2 separate regions of the Homo sapiens genome follow, and region 1 is linked to region 2. Evidence: fine-mapped expression QTL. Tissue or cell type: whole blood. Region 2 holds a variant in brackets; the other region holds the start of a gene. All regions are shown on one strand. Distances are from middle to middle.

Evidence for each region. PIP is the estimated chance that this variant, and not a neighbour inherited with it, causes the effect.
Region 1: it holds the start of FNBP1, and the variant in region 2 is fine-mapped to the expression of FNBP1 in whole blood (INTERVAL, PIP above 0.99).

What each region holds. Positions count from the first base shown.
Region 1 is chr9:130,038,408-130,046,510 of GRCh38, forward strand. It overlaps FNBP1 (formin binding protein 1), which reads right to left and starts at 4,782. Exons shown (of 17, transcript NM_015033.3): 1 at 4,545-4,782. The coding sequence starts at 4,568. RefSeq lists an enhancer at 1,022-1,141 and silencers at 2,052-2,101, 4,145-4,304, 4,485-5,044.
Region 2 is chr9:129,922,978-129,931,080 of GRCh38, forward strand. It overlaps FNBP1 (formin binding protein 1), which reads right to left. Exons shown (of 17, transcript NM_015033.3): 7 at 6,590-6,718; 8 at 4,218-4,364; 9 at 1,983-2,180; 10 at 867-1,049. Among named protein-coding and RNA genes, the nearest start is that of MIR6855, 57 kb to the left of the region's middle. The variant G/A (reference allele first, on the strand shown) is at 3,056.

The DNA of each region.
Region 1 (8,103 bases), 120 kb after region 2:
TTTTTTTTTTGAGACAGAGTCGCTCTGTCGCCCAGGGCGGAGTGCAATGGCGCCATCTCGGCTCACTGCAACCTCCGCCTCCCGGGTTCAAGCGATTCTCCGCCTCAGCCTCCCGAGTAGCTGGGATTACCTGCGTGGACCACCACGCCCGGCTAATTTTTGTATTTTTAGTAGAGATGGGGTTTCACCATCTTGGTCCGGCTGGTCTCAAACTCCTGATGTCGTGATCTGCCCGCCTTGGCCTCCCAAAGTTCTGGGATTACAGGCGTCAGCCACCCACCGCGCCCAGCCCACATGTGGCTTCTTACTATGCTAACCAATATGCATTATTCAGGTTTCTCTGTTCTCTTTCTTGTACATACTTCATTTCTCATTAGCACCAGAGCAAATAAATAAAGACAGAGAGGATACTAGGAGGCAGCAAAACCAGGTTCTGTCACTGAATAATTTGTTAGCTGCAAAGAGAATAATTACGAGGAAGGCTTAATTTTCCAATGGATTTATTCATACTTCACACTAATAAGCAAGCTAATAAAAAGCTGAACTAACACTTCAGTAACCTGTCACTTCCCTCAGTAAGTAGGCAAGAAAAAAAAAACATTCAAATGTAAGCAACTCTTGCTTTGCCATTTCTCCAACAACCAGCCACAACTTCAACAAGTCAGTGAACATATTTACCTTACTAACACTGCCTTTTTAACAAGTCTTGAGTAAATGTATTTTGGTTAATTTTACATACAAACATTTTTCTTTTGACTCTGATGTTACAAGCTAGAGGTAAAACCTACTTTCTATGCTTCCACGTAGATATCTTTCAATGTATATAATGTAACTTACAACAGATTCAGACTGGTGTCTTGTGCACACCATAGTTGTTCAATAAAAATTTTGAAAATTGATTAAAAGGCAATGTTATGAAGAGCTATGTTATGAAGAGTTGTAAACTATTTTATTAGAACCCAATCACTTCAAAATGGCCATGTAAGCCTGGGCGAGGTAGCTCGCGCCTGTAATCCCAGCACTTTGGGAGGCCGAGGCGGGCAGATCACTTGAGGTCAGGAGTTCGAGACCAGCCTGGCCAACATGGTGAAACCCCATCTCTACTAAAAATAGAAAAAATTAGCCAGGTGTGATAATGCACACCTGTAGTCCCAGCTACTCAGGAGGCTAAGGCAAGAGAATCACTAGAACCTGGGAAGTGAAAGTTGCAGTGAGCCAAGATCGTGACAGTGCACTCCAGCCTGGGCAACAAGAGCGAAGCTTTGTCTCAAAAAAAAAAAAAAAAAGAAAGTTTATTTCTATGGAGGGGTTAAAGAAAAAGTAAAAAAGAAAGAGGAAGAGAAAGGTTTTACTCCCTCTACAAAGCAGGATGTGGCTTAGGAGCAGGTCTTCAGTGTAAAATGCACATTAGAAACCTGTAGTTTCTAAAAGCCTATATTGATTTTAACCTGAAGTCCTAAAATGTATGTAAAATCTGATAGTATTTGTGAAGGTCCCTGAAAGCTGCAACCACCTGTTACAAATAATTCATGGCCACCCAAACCATAGCTCTTTCTCCATCTAGAAGAATAATTCTGCCAAGTTTGGCTTGAGCGCCCCATCATTATCTCATTATACATGTGCATGATTCCAAAGCCACCATTCAAGGAAAACCCTTAATCACTGCCCTCCGCTGGGCTACCCAATGTACCGCACATCACCAAGTCTCTGACCACCGGAGAAACTGGGGTTTACTTTTCATAATCCTTCATTATTCTAGTTTTTTTAAATCTCAAAAGCTACTAAGCCTTATACATCTTTGCATTTCACCTGAAAACTTAGATTTTGCATTTCTCTTAGTAGCACAATCATGTGTTCATTCCTTTTCCTATATTAAACTGTAAGCTACTCAAAGGCAAATGCTGGTACTCATAAGAATGTCTTTTTTAACGTCAAGCGTGGTGGCTCACGCCTGCGATCCCAGCACTTTGGGAGGCTGAGGCAGGCGGATTACCTGACATCAGGAGTTTGAGACCAGCCTGGCCAACACGGCGAAACCCCGTCTCTACTAAATACACAAAAAAATTAGCTGGGCATGGTGGCAGGCGCGTGTAGTCCCAGCTACTTGGGAGGCTGAGGCAGGAGAATCGTTTGAACCTGGGAGGCAGAGGCTGCAGTGAGCCGAGATCACGCCACTGCACGCCAGCCTGGGCAGGCAACAGAGCAAGACTCCGTCTCAGAAAAAAAAAAAAAAAGAATGTCTTTTTAAAAACTCCTCATTGCCATACACTTGCATATATAGAACTGTTAACTGATTCATTCTTCCTCATAAAATTGTCAAGTGAAAAAATTACAAATAGTTCACATCCTTCTCCTTTAAAACTATTTTCCAATTATTTTTATTGTAGAAAATGTCAAATATATATACTAGAAAGAATAGTGTAATGAATACTTCTGTACTCAGCATTTGGCTTCAATAATGGCCAACTCTGTCTCACTATCTCCCATCTACTAACAACCCAAATTATTGTGAAGCAAATATAAGATTTCATATCATTAATATTTGTATATATTCCAGTTCCCATTTATTATTTTTTTCTTTTTTCTTTTTTCTTTTCTTTTTTTTTTTTTTAAGAGGAGGCCTCTCCAGATATTCCCCAAGCTGTTCTTGAACTCCTGGGCCCAAAAGATCCTCCCGACTCAGCCTCCCAAGGTGCTGGCAATATAGGCCTGAGCCACTGCGCCCGGCCTCTCTCATTTATTTTCAATCACTCCTAACCCTGCCTTCCTTCCCACTTCTGCACCCTCAAAAAGAAATGTACAGAATAATGCAAGCAATTGCCGCTGTTTTAGCAGTTTTGCTCATAGCCACTGCCTCTCTTTGGAATTATATTCTATCCCATTCACCAACATCACTGAACTGTCCACCAAGGTATTGTGTTCGGTCCCTATTTCACTCAGAAATATATTGTACATTTTCCCTCCATAATTCCATCCACCTGTCTGAACAAGTGAAAAAAAAATTGTGCCACAATTTCTACTGTCTTGACAAAGATTACTTCTGATTTGCTTCCCCACCCCAGATAAGCTAAAGAGAGCTAAAGGGAGTGGAAGGATTAGAAGAGGAAAGAAACTTCAATACGGTACTCAAAGTCATAGATTTTGCCTAAACTGGTGTGTGCAAATATTTTAAACTATTTTATTTTCAAAATGGATACTTGTAAACATCAGCGGAAATTTTGTCATGAATCCCTTTTAGGCAGAAGATGTTTATAAAATGAATTATCTTAATTTAAGGGAGCTATTGCCCTCAGGATTTTGGTAATAACAACCGTAGCTGCTTCTGTACCTAACAAATGGTTATGTAAAAACAATTAAAGCAAAAGAAAACAAAACAAAAAACAAGGGAGGATGTGCTCTGTTTCTGTAATTGCTCTAACCTTGTTTTATTTTGATATGAGATTTCTTGGCCTCATCTCAGATAGCAACACCACCCTACACTTTCTCCTCCACACCCTTTGCAAATAGAATTCCAAAAGGTAGTTCAGGCACTTTAGAGTTCATCCTGGGAAATGGCTCATCTTGAGGGCATTTCAGTGCAGTAACTGAGATTTCGTCTGCTCCTTCCCGGGCCGCCGCACTGCCCATCCCCTGCCCAGTGATTTCCCCAGGAATCCGGGGACGGCAGGAAAAGAGCTCCATCCACAGCCAGCCCCTCGCCTTTCCGGGGACGGCCCTCAGCCCTGAGGGCTGCCCGTTTACCGTGCGCATCCCCCGGCCAAGCATCCCCGCAAGGCGCCCCTCACCGCCAACTTTCCCCACTGGAAACTATTCTCCGAGCAACCGTTAAAGATCATTGACCCCGCGAACGCCTCTTCCTGAGGTAGATCACGTAAGATCTCTCCCTAACTCCCACTTTCCCCTCCAGACCAGACGTCGCAGTGCCCACATCCCACTCAGGATTGAGCTACCCCGAAAGAACAAGTGCGCCCGGAGCCGCCACGGGCCAGAAGTCCTCGCCTCCAGAGCGAAGACCGCACTCTCGCCCCAGCACCCCAAAACCCGACCCCCGGCGCTCGCCCCGGCCGCCCCGCTCCCGGGGAAGTGCCCGATCCGCCAGCGCCTCCGCGGAGCCAGGACAGAACTCGCGGCCGGGGCGCCCCGAGACCCAACGCAGCGCCGCGCAGCCGGGGCCTCCACGCCCCCACGCCCGGTCCCGGCCCTCCCCGGGCATCCGCGGCTCGCCCCGGGGGATTAGGGCTCGGCCCGACACACACGGCCCGCTCCGGGGCGCCGGGGACAGGGAGGCCCGCCCGCGCCGTTCCTCAGGCCGCCGGGGACCCGCACCAACTCCCCTCGCCTCCGAAGGACAAGCCGGCCCGCACCTCCTGCTCGGGCCAAGGCGGACGAGGGGCATTGGAACCCCGCCTCCTCCCCAGGCCGCGAGGACCCCGACCAGCGCGCCCTCGCCTCCGCCCAGCAGCGCGGCCCGCGCCCCCTCCCCAGGCCGCGGGGAAACGCAGCGCGCGCCCCGCATCTGCCCGCGGGCCCAGCCCCTCACTCACCCAGAGCTCGGTGCCCCAGCTCATGGTGCAGGGGACGCGAAGGGGCGCTCCGCGCGGCGGGCGCGGCTCTCTGGTCCCCCTCCCCGGCGATCCCTTTGCCCCCCGAGATCCCCGCGACGGCGGAAAGCCCGGAGTCCGCGCGGCCTCCTCCGGCTCGCAGCTCCTCGCCCGGGGTCTCCTCGGCGGCTCCTCCTCCCCGCCGCTCCACAGCAAAATGGCCCGAGGAAGCAGCAGCCGCGGCCGCCGCAGCGCCCGCCCGCCCTACACCCGGAGAGCGGGGGAGGGGCGGGAGGGGAGGGGCGGGGCCGGTCTGACAGCTCGCGCACGCGCGCCCGCCCCACCCCGGCCCGGCCCCCTCCCCCGGGCTCCCCCGGCCGGGTCCGCGTCGCCCTGGGGTCCGGAAGGACGCGGAGGGAGGTGTGAGGGACGGCGGGACCCGGATCCCTAGGACTCCCCCTGCCAATCTGGTAATGACTTCTTAGTGACCACTGTCTGCTCGCAGTACTAGCGCTTGCCTTGGAACGCGGCAGGCCCTGGGATCACCGATGCTCCGCCGCGGTCTGAGATCGCTCCCCTGCGCGTATCGCCGCTCTGGATTTAAGGACAATACTTTCCCCTGGCAGCCATGCGCGCCGAGCAGAGTCAGCCCGGGAGGCTCTTTTCCCACCGCCCGAGGGAAGCCCGAGAGTCCCGCAGGCTGGCGCGGTGGGAGTGGGGCGGTGGTAACTGCGCGCTGTGCGAATAGAGACGTCGAGGCAAGCGCGACGGCCTCGAGTGGCTAGGGAAAGAATCCAGGGGCGTGCACCCAGTGATTTCCAATCTCTGAAACCAGTGATTTCCAACTTGTTCAGCCAAGAAACTCTCAGGCGTGAAATCACGTTACCGCCTAGTGGGTAAAAGCAAAGGCGTGGGGTACACAGATAACTTGTTTGGTTCAAATCCAGCCTCCCGCACGTGCTGGCCGGGCGGAGGCGGACAATTGCTCCACCTCTGGAAGCGCAGAGCGCAGTCCACCAAATGGAGGCAAATAACGTGTCCATCTCACTGCCCGGCGGTGAGGATCAGGGGTGGGCCAAGGCCGAAGGTTGGTAAACCCAGCGCTCATTTTATCAGCAGACGGACTCCCTCTCTATATATCCAAAGGTCTGCACAAATGTTCCTGACAAGCTATGGAAAATGTTTGGAATTCCAACTCCTGAATCACTAGCCCTTTCCCCACAGCTTATCTTTCTCCCTCGGTTAATGCTACTACTGGATCCTTTTCTGAGAAACCGTGCGACTCCCAACATGGGCCCCCAGTTAAAAAATATTTTACGATGATGCATTTCTCCAATCCCACCCCACCATTTTCAACCTGCTTATCATTCTCCTCCATTAAAAGGTGGAGCTAACCCGGGTCTGGTGGCTCACGCCTGTAATCCCAGCACATCAGGAGGCCCAGGTGGGAGGATGGCTGGAGGCCAGGAATTTGAGACCAGCCTGGGCAACATCGCAAGACCCTGTCTCTACAAAAAGAAAAAAAAAAAAGTTAGCTGGGCATGGTGGCATGCACCTGTGGTCCCAGCTACTTGGGAGACTGAGACAGGAGGATCGCTTGAGCCTAGAAGGTTGAAGTTGCAGTGAGCCATGATGGTGCCATTGCCCTCCAGCTTGAGCAACAGAGCAAGACCCTGTCTCAAAAATATTAACAATAATGAATTAAAGCCGGGCATGGTGGCTCACGCCTGTAATCCCAACACTTTGGGAGGCAGAAGTGAGTGGATCATCTGAGGTCAGGAGTTTGAGAGCAGCCTGGCCAACATGGAGAAACCCCGTCTCTACTAAAAACACAAAAGTTAGCTGGGCGTGGTGACAGGGCGCCTGTAATCCCAGCTACTCAGGAGGCTGAGGCAAGAGAATCGCTTGAACCCGGGAGGCAGAAGTTGGAGTGAGCCAAGATTGTGCCACTGCACTCCAGCCTGGGTGACAGAGCGAGACTGTCTCAAAAAATAAAATAAAATGAATAATAATAATAAATTAAGAGGTGGAGCTACTAAACAAAAAACAAAACAAAAAAAAACCTCTTGCAGATAAACCTCCAACTCTACTTCCTTTGTTGGGCAGTTACAATAAATTTAAGTTGTCAAAACTGTTTTGGTCTGCCTTTTTTCAGTTACAACCCTCCCTTCCTGCCCACCCCCATTCTTGTGTCTGTATAAATATTTTGCTCTCAGTTACCAGGTCTGAATTCTCTTTCCTCCAGAGACTGCTAGATATATAACAATGAGAACGGCCAGCTACCTATCTCCTAAGGCAGATTAATAGCCAGAGTGAGTTGGAGGGGGAAATTCAAACAATGCTGCACAGTTTAGTCTGCTAAAATTTGGAAACGGTACATGCAATGCAGGTTTATCTAACAAGACATTGCCTCAGTAATCACCTTCCTGCCAGGGCTTGACTTTTTAGTCAAATACAATGATCTAATCTTGACCAAGTTATTGGAGACTTCTCAAAAACAGTGACCACTTGTGAAAATACTCTAATCAAGAAGTAAAACAACCTGCTGCTTTAAAGAGGAGAAAGAGGAAGAGGAAGGGACAGCAGAAGAAAAAAAGAGACCACATGAAGATGAAACTTTTTAAGACGAGTAAGCAGGAGATTGTTAGTTATAGGAAGGAACCCATTAAAAGCTGCCGCAGAACTCTATGGATGTGAGTTAATTATACAACACTGCAAATATCTTTAACTTCATTAAGCTTTGGCAGTAACTGGAAAATGCTTGAAAGTGTCAGAATCTTCAAAAAATAAAGGAGAGAGACACCAATGATCATGAAGCCATGAGATAAAATGAAATAAGCCAGCAGAAAAAAGGCTAAAATATAGCACAGCATTTTTTAGGAAGAACTAAATCCATTTCAGTTTCCCTTCAGAGCAGGAGGAAGTGATTCTAAGACAAGGAAGTATCCCCATTAACAAACTACTGTGACCTGACCTACTTAGGAATCAGTTTTCACCAGGGGTACTCTAAACTCTATGTAAACGCTGATATTATCTAGGGGGTTAATCTGGGTTGCAGATACTGGTTTCACCTCTCAGTAAAATCTAGGGAACACTGATTTACAAAATTATGATCTTGGTGTGATATTACAAAATATATATTTTGTCGTCAACCTTGTTTCCTGAAGTATAGCTCCTAAAATCCTTAAAAACCCCAAAATGATGTCTTTTTATATACTAATGAGATGACTGATGGCTGACAGTCCCTAAGTATTAGTACCTCAAGATGGGACTGGTCACCATAAAGACCAAGACAAGATTAGAGGTGTGGGACTTTTATCTGCACCCACACTGTCACTCCAACCTCCGGGGACTGGGGAGAGGCGCTGAAAGTTAAGTTGTTCAGTAATGGTCAATAGCTTAATCAATCATGACTACATAAAATAAAGCCTCTATTAAAACTCCAAAAAACAAAGTTCTGAGAACTTCCAGATAGCTAAACACATAAAAGTCCCTAGAGAGTTGGCCGGACGTGGTGGCTCACGCCTGTAATCCCAGCACTTTGGGAGGCAGAGGCAGGCAG
Region 2 (8,103 bases):
TCCAAAGTGCCAGGATTACAGGCATGAGACACTGCGCTTGTCCTATTAATTTTTATATATTTTTTTAAGAGATGGGGGTCTCACTATGGTGTCCAAGCTGGTTTTGAACTCCTGAGCTCAAGCAATCCTCCTGCCTTGGCCTCCTAAAGTGCTAGGATTACAGATGTGAACTATCACGCCCAGTCTCAGGTCGCTAGTTTTAGAAATGAAATCTAAGTGGTTTTTTTTGGTAAAATTAAGGTAGAAAATGCATGACTTGGATGCTTTAAAGAGGAAGAGGGGTAAAGTCCTTCCAAAATGTACTAGAAACGAAAAGAAAAAGGCCGGGCGCAGTGGCTCACACCTGTAATCCCAGCACTTTGTAAGGCCGAGGCGGGCGGATCACAAGGTCAAGAGATCGAGACCATCCTGGCCAACATGATGAAATGCTGTCTCTACTAAAAATATAAAAAGTAGCTGGGCGTGGTGGCATATGCCTGTAATCACAGCTAATCAGGAGGCCGAGGCAGGAGAATCGCTTAAACCCGGGAGGTGGAGGTTGCAGGGAGCCGAGATCACGCCACTGCACTCCAGCCTGGTGACAGAGCGAGACTCTGTCTGGAAAAAAAAAAAAAAGAAAGAAACAAATAGAAAGAACTCTGGGCTGTCTGGTTTTCTCCTTTCTTCCAACCACCATGCTTCCTTCTTTCTTTCTTCCTCTTTCTGGCTTTTCTTTCTAGCTATAATGGTTTTTGTTTTTTTTTTTTTAACTTTTTTATATGTTATGGGAAAACACAATGGATTCATTCACAAACAAAATTAGTTATGCAGAACCAAACATGCAACCAAAGCACGCCAGAGAGACAGGATTCCGGAGCAGAACTTACCCCACGCTTTAGGCTCCTGAAGCAGTGGATTTTGGGTTTGGAGGTCATGAACTCGTTGAAGCGATGGGAGAGGGGTTCCTTTTGCTGCTTGGGAGACTGGGGGCCGTTGGGAACAGCAGAGGGTGAGGCAGAGGCAGGAGGGGGAGGGGGAGGCTGATGGGGGGATGTTAAAAGGGACATAAGCTACATGTAAGAGATGGAGCCGTGACAGAGTAAAAATCAGAAACAAGAAGACACAAAACAAAAATAAGCATCAAATAATATTTGAAATCCAACGCAAGTAAAACACAAACAATTAAATTTTAGGCCATGGTCCAAAAGAAAACATGTAGGAGGTGGTTAAATGAAGAATATGATGAGAGTTGGGAGGTTTAGTAAGTAATGCGACAGAAGAGCAAGAAATATCTGACAAGAAGCTCGTGCAGACTTTCCCATGCAAACTATAGCTCTAGTTAGTTACTCTAAACCAGCTTAAGCCAGAGGGTAAATATTTCTACATTACCTAAACTAACATAGCTTGATGGGAGAAAATGAAAGACCTTCAATGCTAAGGTTGTGGAAACAGCAGTCTGTTTAAATTAATAAATAGTAAGTCATTCTAAAGTTAAAGCAGTAATGCTGCCTTGATCATATTCTACGTCCCCAGGTTAATGCTGTCATGCACCTATGTATCGCACTATGAAAAGAAAATGAAAAATGTTCATGGGTACACATGTTAACATGAATTCAAAACCAAGTTATTAACATGGTAACGATTTCCAGTAGATGTGCGGATAAAGTGTTACAGGAATGTCCCACTACATCCTCTCTCCCAGCCAAGGTAACCAGCAGTCTAGGAGAGGAAGGAGGGAAAGGCATGAGGCGAAACGGTGGAGAGGTCAGTACTCTGTTAGTGTGGGAGTCACGGTACGAGGATAATGCATCTGAAATAAGACACAGGGCCATGGCAAAGATACCACCACCAAAAAGAAATACTGTCTCAACATAAGGTAGCACACTAGCTTCTTCTTTTGCATTCTGAAACTACAGGTTTAGGATCTTAGTTTTTCTAAGACTAAAAGATCAAGTCAAAATCTCCACACCTTAGAAAACTCATTTCACGCCAACCATCAGTACCTTATTTTTTTTGATGAACGGCCATAACTTTCCTTTGGATTTGCCACCAAATTTGAGGTCTGGTTTGCCTTCTCCTCTGGAATTTGAAAGGCTGTTATCTGACACAGTGCGCTTCATTGGCTGAGTGTAATCCTCAAATTCAATGTCTCCAGGAGGCTCAAACCCTGATTTATAAGCTTCTATTACCAGCTGTGAATCCTGAAATTATACCCACAAGCATATAAATACATTCAGAAGCATGCAAACACTTTTTAAACAATGAATTGGCCAGGTGCGGTGGCTCATGCCTGTAATCCCAGCACTCTGGGAGGCAGAGGCGGGTGGATCACGAGGTCAGGAGATCAAGACCATCCTGGCTAACATGGTGAAACCCCGTCTCTACTAAAAATACAAAAAATTAGCCAGGCGTGGTGGCGGGCGCCTGTAGTCCCAGCTACTCAGGAGGCTGAGGCAGGAGAATGGCATGAACCCAGGAGGCGGAGGTTGCAGTGAGCTGAGCTCGCGCCACTGCACTCCAGCCTGGGCGACAGAGTGAGACTCCATCTCAAAAAAACAATGAATTATGATGATCTCATACAGATGATAACTAACGAAATTGTACTGATTGATAATAACTTTTTTCCTAGTAGCTTTTTTTTTTTTTTTTTTTTTTTTGAGACAGTCTCAATCTGTTACCCAGGCTGGAGTGCAGTGGCGTGATCTCAGCTCACCGCAACCTCCGCCTCCCAGGTTTAAGCGATTCTCCTGCCTCAGCCTCCCGAGTAGCTGGGATTACAGGCATGTGCCATCATGCCTAGCTAATTTTTGTATTTTTAGTAGAGATGGGGTTTCGCCATGTTGGCCAGGCTGGTCTCAAATTCTTGACCTCAGGTGATCCGCCTGCCTCGGCTTCCCAAAGTGCTGGCATTACAGGCTTGAGTCACCACAGCTGGCCAGCTTTTTTCATTCTTCTCAAAAGCCATCATTTGAGCTTTTCATCCGAGCTTTTAGAATTTAGAACTATTGTTTTCTGATTTTTTTGTTTGTTTTTGAGACAGAGTCTCGCTCTGTCACTCAGACTGGAGTGCAGTGGC[G/A]TGATCTTGGCTCACTGCAATCCCTGCCTCCTGAGTTCCAGCAATTCTCGTGCCTCAGCCTCCCGAGTAGCTGGGACTACAGGGGCATACCACCACACCCAGCTAATTTTTGTATTTTTAGTAGAGATGTGGTTTCACCATGTTGGCCAGGCTGGTCTTGAACTCCTGGCATCAAGTGATCCACCCGCTCCGGCCTCCCAAAGTGCTGGGATTACAAATGTGAGCCACTGTGCCCAGCCAGCAGCATAACTTTTATGTTGAATATTTGTGTCTTCAAATTAACAGTAAAAGCCTATGCTGGTGTTCTAGTTTATATTTTTTTGAGAAATAGGTCTCTAGGAATTCAAATGGAGAACACTGCCCTAAAGCAGTATTCTCAACCAGAGAAGCTTTTGCCCTCCCAGAGGACATGTGACAATGTGTGGAGACATTTTTGATTGTCACAACTCGGGGAGTGCTACTGGCCTCTGCTGGGTAGAGGCCAGGATGCTGCTAAACATTCTGAAATGCCCCCAACAAGAAAAATGATCTGGCCTGAGATAATGTCAAAAGTGCTGAAGGAACCCTGTTTTGGCCGGGTGCAGTGGTTCACACCTGTAATCCTAACACTTTGGGAGGCTGAGGCGGGCGGATTACCTGAGGTCAGGAGTTCGAGACCAGCCTGGCCAATATGGTGAAACCCCGTCTCTGCTAAAAATACAGAAATTAGCTGGGCGTGGTGCGGGCGCCTGTAGTCCCAGCTACTCAGGAGGCTGAGGCAGGAGAATCGCTTGAACCCGGGAGGTGGAGGTTGCAGTGACCCAAGATCACGCCACTGCACTGCAGCCTGGGCAACAGAGCGAGATTCCATCTCAAAAAGAAAAAAAAAAAAAGAAAAAGAAAAAGAAAAAGAGAAAGAAACCCTGCCTTAGAGGAAACAAAGCCTTTACCTTTTTTCCAGGAAATACTTCAATTCAATTCTGTCATGTCTCGGACAATTTACCACTTAAATGTGTTTACCAAAAAAGGAATTATACAGCTAAATCCAAGACACAGAGCATGTGTGACCACCAAAAGCAACCATCCACCATGAGATGATGACATGAGGTCAAATGGAAAGGGGATGGGGAGAAATAATGGATCTGCAAATAGTTATCAATGAAGTCCAAATGGCAATACTTACATTTTTCTGATCAATTGATTCGGCTGCTTTTACTATTCCATCCAGGCACTTCCCAATGATTGGGATCACCTGCCGATCAACCTCTGCATATGTCTTCATGGACTCTCCCATTCTCACAATCCTCCTTTCCTCCATCTCTTGTATTTTCTGCAACATTAGATTTTGTATAAAGTAAGTTTGGTCCATTATTATTAAACAAAGTTGTTTTTCGGCAGCATTGTTACCTCTAACAAGTTCTCTTTGAGGAAAAAATGGGTTAGAGTTAGAGCGGCTCTAAGTACACGGAGCCTCCATATTACCCAGCTGTACATTTATTTTATAAATTGCTAGACATGTTAGGCTGCCCAAATATATGCTTTGCACAATTCCATTCTAATTTTAGTAAGAATGCCAAACTCAATAGTTCTTTTTTGTTTTTCTTTTTGTTTTTTTGAGACGGAGTTTTGCTCTTGTCACCCAGGCTGGAGTGCAGTGGTGTGATCTCAGCTCACTGCAACCTCTGCCTCCAGGTTCAAGTGATTCTCCTGCGTCAGCCTCCCAAGTAGCTGGGATTACAGGCCCCACCCCCCCTCCCCCCGCCACCACACTTGGCTAATTTTTTGTATTTTTAGTACAGATGGGGTTTCGCCATGTTGGCCAGGCTGGTCTCCAACTCCTTACCTCAGGTGATCCACCTGCCTAGGCCTCCAAAGTGCTGGGATTACAGGCTTGAGCCACCACACCTGGCCAATAGTTTTATTACTAACACTATTTGTAATCTACCTCAAACGTTTTCTCCATCTTTAATCTACTACTTTACCTTTTACCAAAAGCACAGTATTTAATTAACTGCCTCAGCCCAATACATGCTAGTGTATCTTCCAACTATAATTTACAAGGACTTGTTTGCTGTGTGTGTAGACACCAAGAAGCAAATATATTATTTATTTTTTCTACAATTGGACTCAAAGTTGCAAAAAATCTGTAAAATGGAAGAACATATGTCTATCTTTTCTCATACCATTTTTGACAACCTAACATGAGCAAAAGAAAACAATCCAAAAGAAAGAACTGTCATTTGTTTAAATCCTATAACTCTATGAATGCTGCTTTGACTTCTATAGTTAAGTTGGCATTTTTATAACCACAATCATCCCTTTAGCAAAGACAGCATTAATCACAGAATCATAGTTTAAGACTGACAAATAGGCGCTGTGGCTCACGCCTGTAATCCCAGCACTTTGGGAGGCCAAGGCGGGCGGATCACCTGAGGTCAGGAGTTCACGACCAGCCTGGCCAACATGGTGAAACCCCGTCTCTACTAAAAATACAAAAAAGGTAGCCAGGTATGGTGGCAGGTGCCTGTAATCCCAGCTACTCAGGAGGCTGAGGCAGGAGATTCGCCGGAACCCAGGAGGTGAAGGTTGCAGTGAGCTGAGATCATGCCACTGCATTCCAGCCTGGGTGACAGAGCAAGACTCCATCTCAAAAAAAAAAAAGAAAAAAAGAAAAAAAGAAAAAAGACTGACAAATAATTGGCTGCAGGTGCAAACTATAGAAATTTGCAAAGTTATTGATTAATCTTGAGATTATTATATTTCATTCATATTGCTAGTCAATGCTTGATCTAGATGCTTTAAAAAATGATTTATCATGCCTATAATCCTAGCACTTTGGGAGGCCAAGGCTGGAGAACTGTTTGAGTCCAGGAATTTGAGACCATCCTGGGCAACACAGCAAGACCCTATCTCTATAAAAAATTTAAAAATTAGCAGGGCATGGTGGTGCATGCCTGTAGTTCCATCTACTTAGGAGGCTGAACTTGGAGGATCCCTTGATCCTTTGAGCCCAGGAGTTCAAAGCTGCAGTGGGTCGTGATTGTGCACTGCACTCCAGCCTGGGCAACAGAGTGAGACTGTCTCAAAAAACAAAAACAAAACAAAACAAAAAAAAGGGCCAGGCATGGTGGCTCAGGCCTGTAATCCCACCACTTTGGGAGGCCGAGGTAGGCAGATCACCTGAGGTCATGACTTTGAGACCAGCCTGGCCAACATGGCAAAACCCCGTCTCTACTAAAAATACAAAAATTAGCCGGGCCCAGTGGTACGTGCCTGTAGTCCCAGCTACTCGGGAGGCTGAGGCAGGAGAGTCACTTGAACCTAGGAGGCAGGGGTTGCAATGAGCCGAGACTGTGCCATTGCACTCCAGCCTGGGTGACAAAGCAAGACTCTGTCTCAAAAAAAAAAAAAAAAAAAAAAAAAATTAGTGGAAATTTGGAATTATATAAAGACTCAGACTCAGAATACAAACCCAGCAATCACGATTCAGAAGTGTCATGTTTCTAAGGAAAGCAAAGCATAAAACATGAAATCTGAGAGATGTTCAGGACTTACCTGGAAGATGTTGGGGATGTGAGTATGGTAATATTCATGCTGCTCATGGTTGAATTTCTGGAGAATGGATGAGTAATCTGCTTTGCTGTCCTCTGCCATTTGGTGACGTATTTGAGCTTGTTGTCGGGCCTTAGGGCAAAAACAAGAATACTCCTACGTTTATACACCATAGATAAAAGCCTGGGTGCAATCAATAAAAGCCTAGAACTGCACACTGGGATGCCTAGGGGCCAGATTTACCTCAAATGTATTCCGCGGGTGCTTTTTAATGTTCTGAATTGAATTGACTTTAGGTAAGCAATGTGCATCCTAGTTTGTATAAACCTCCACCATTCCCTACTGCCTTAACGTGGCGTGTACCTTCTAGTTTGACACACCATTCTATACTGTCTGCACTTGGGCCAATTTACATTATTTGGATGACCCTTGTGGGAACCTCTGCTCATCTCATATACACATTTTTTTTTTTTTGAGGAGGGGATGAGAAATTCATTTTTTTTTTTTCTTTTTTTGAGACCAGGTCTCGCTCTGTCACCCAGGCTGGAGTGCAGTGGCACGATCCTGGCTCACTGCAGCCTCAACCTCCTGGGTTCAAGCAATCCTCTTACCTCAGCCTCTCAAGTAGCTGGGACTACAGGCGTGCACCACCATGCTTGGCTAATTTTTGTATTTTTTTTGTAGATAGGAGGTCTCACCACATTGCCCAGGCTATTCTTGAACTCCTTGACTCAAGCAATCCACCCGCCTCAGCCTCCCAAAGTGCTGGGATTATGGGCATGAACCACGGTGCCTGGCTGGGAAATCCATGAATTTTTAAACCCAGTTCTCAATGGGGTTCATGCACTAAAAAGGCATATGAACCACTGACCTAAGGAGACTTTTCTAAAGCTCTCTAGCATGTTTATATTTAGTATATATGCTAAAGAGGGAATAAGTATGGCAACTTCTTTATGCTTTTTATGTTTTTTGAGGAGTGCTATTTTATGTTTTACTGCATTGCTTTTCTCCTAAAAAATCAATAATTTACACATTTGTTTTTCTCTAATTCATATTCTGATTGATCACATACCTAAAAAAGGGGCAACAATTGTTGACTAGTTGCAGAATGGATTTTAAAGTTCAAACAGGAATGTCTATAAATTCTAAAGTCATCCAGAAGTACAAGAGGTTGTGCCGTTAATACCACCTTAGATTCACATAGCATTGTGGTGTTATTTTGATAAATATAATCTTGTGAATCTCTAACACAATTTGAGGTCCACACAAGGCAAAAAACTACCTCCTGCCAGATGAAGATAGGGTTTTTGGTCTTTAAGTGACCTGGCAAATTCACTGCAGTAAGCCAGAAACACAACAGGAAATAGGCTGTCTTCCAACATAACCAGGGCAACTATTTGTTTGTTTGCTTGTTTTTGTTTTGTTTTACTGAACCAATGTTTCAGAAAACTAAGACCTGGCTGGGTGTGGTAGATCACGCCTGCAATCCCAGCTCTATGGAAGGCTCGGGTGGGCAG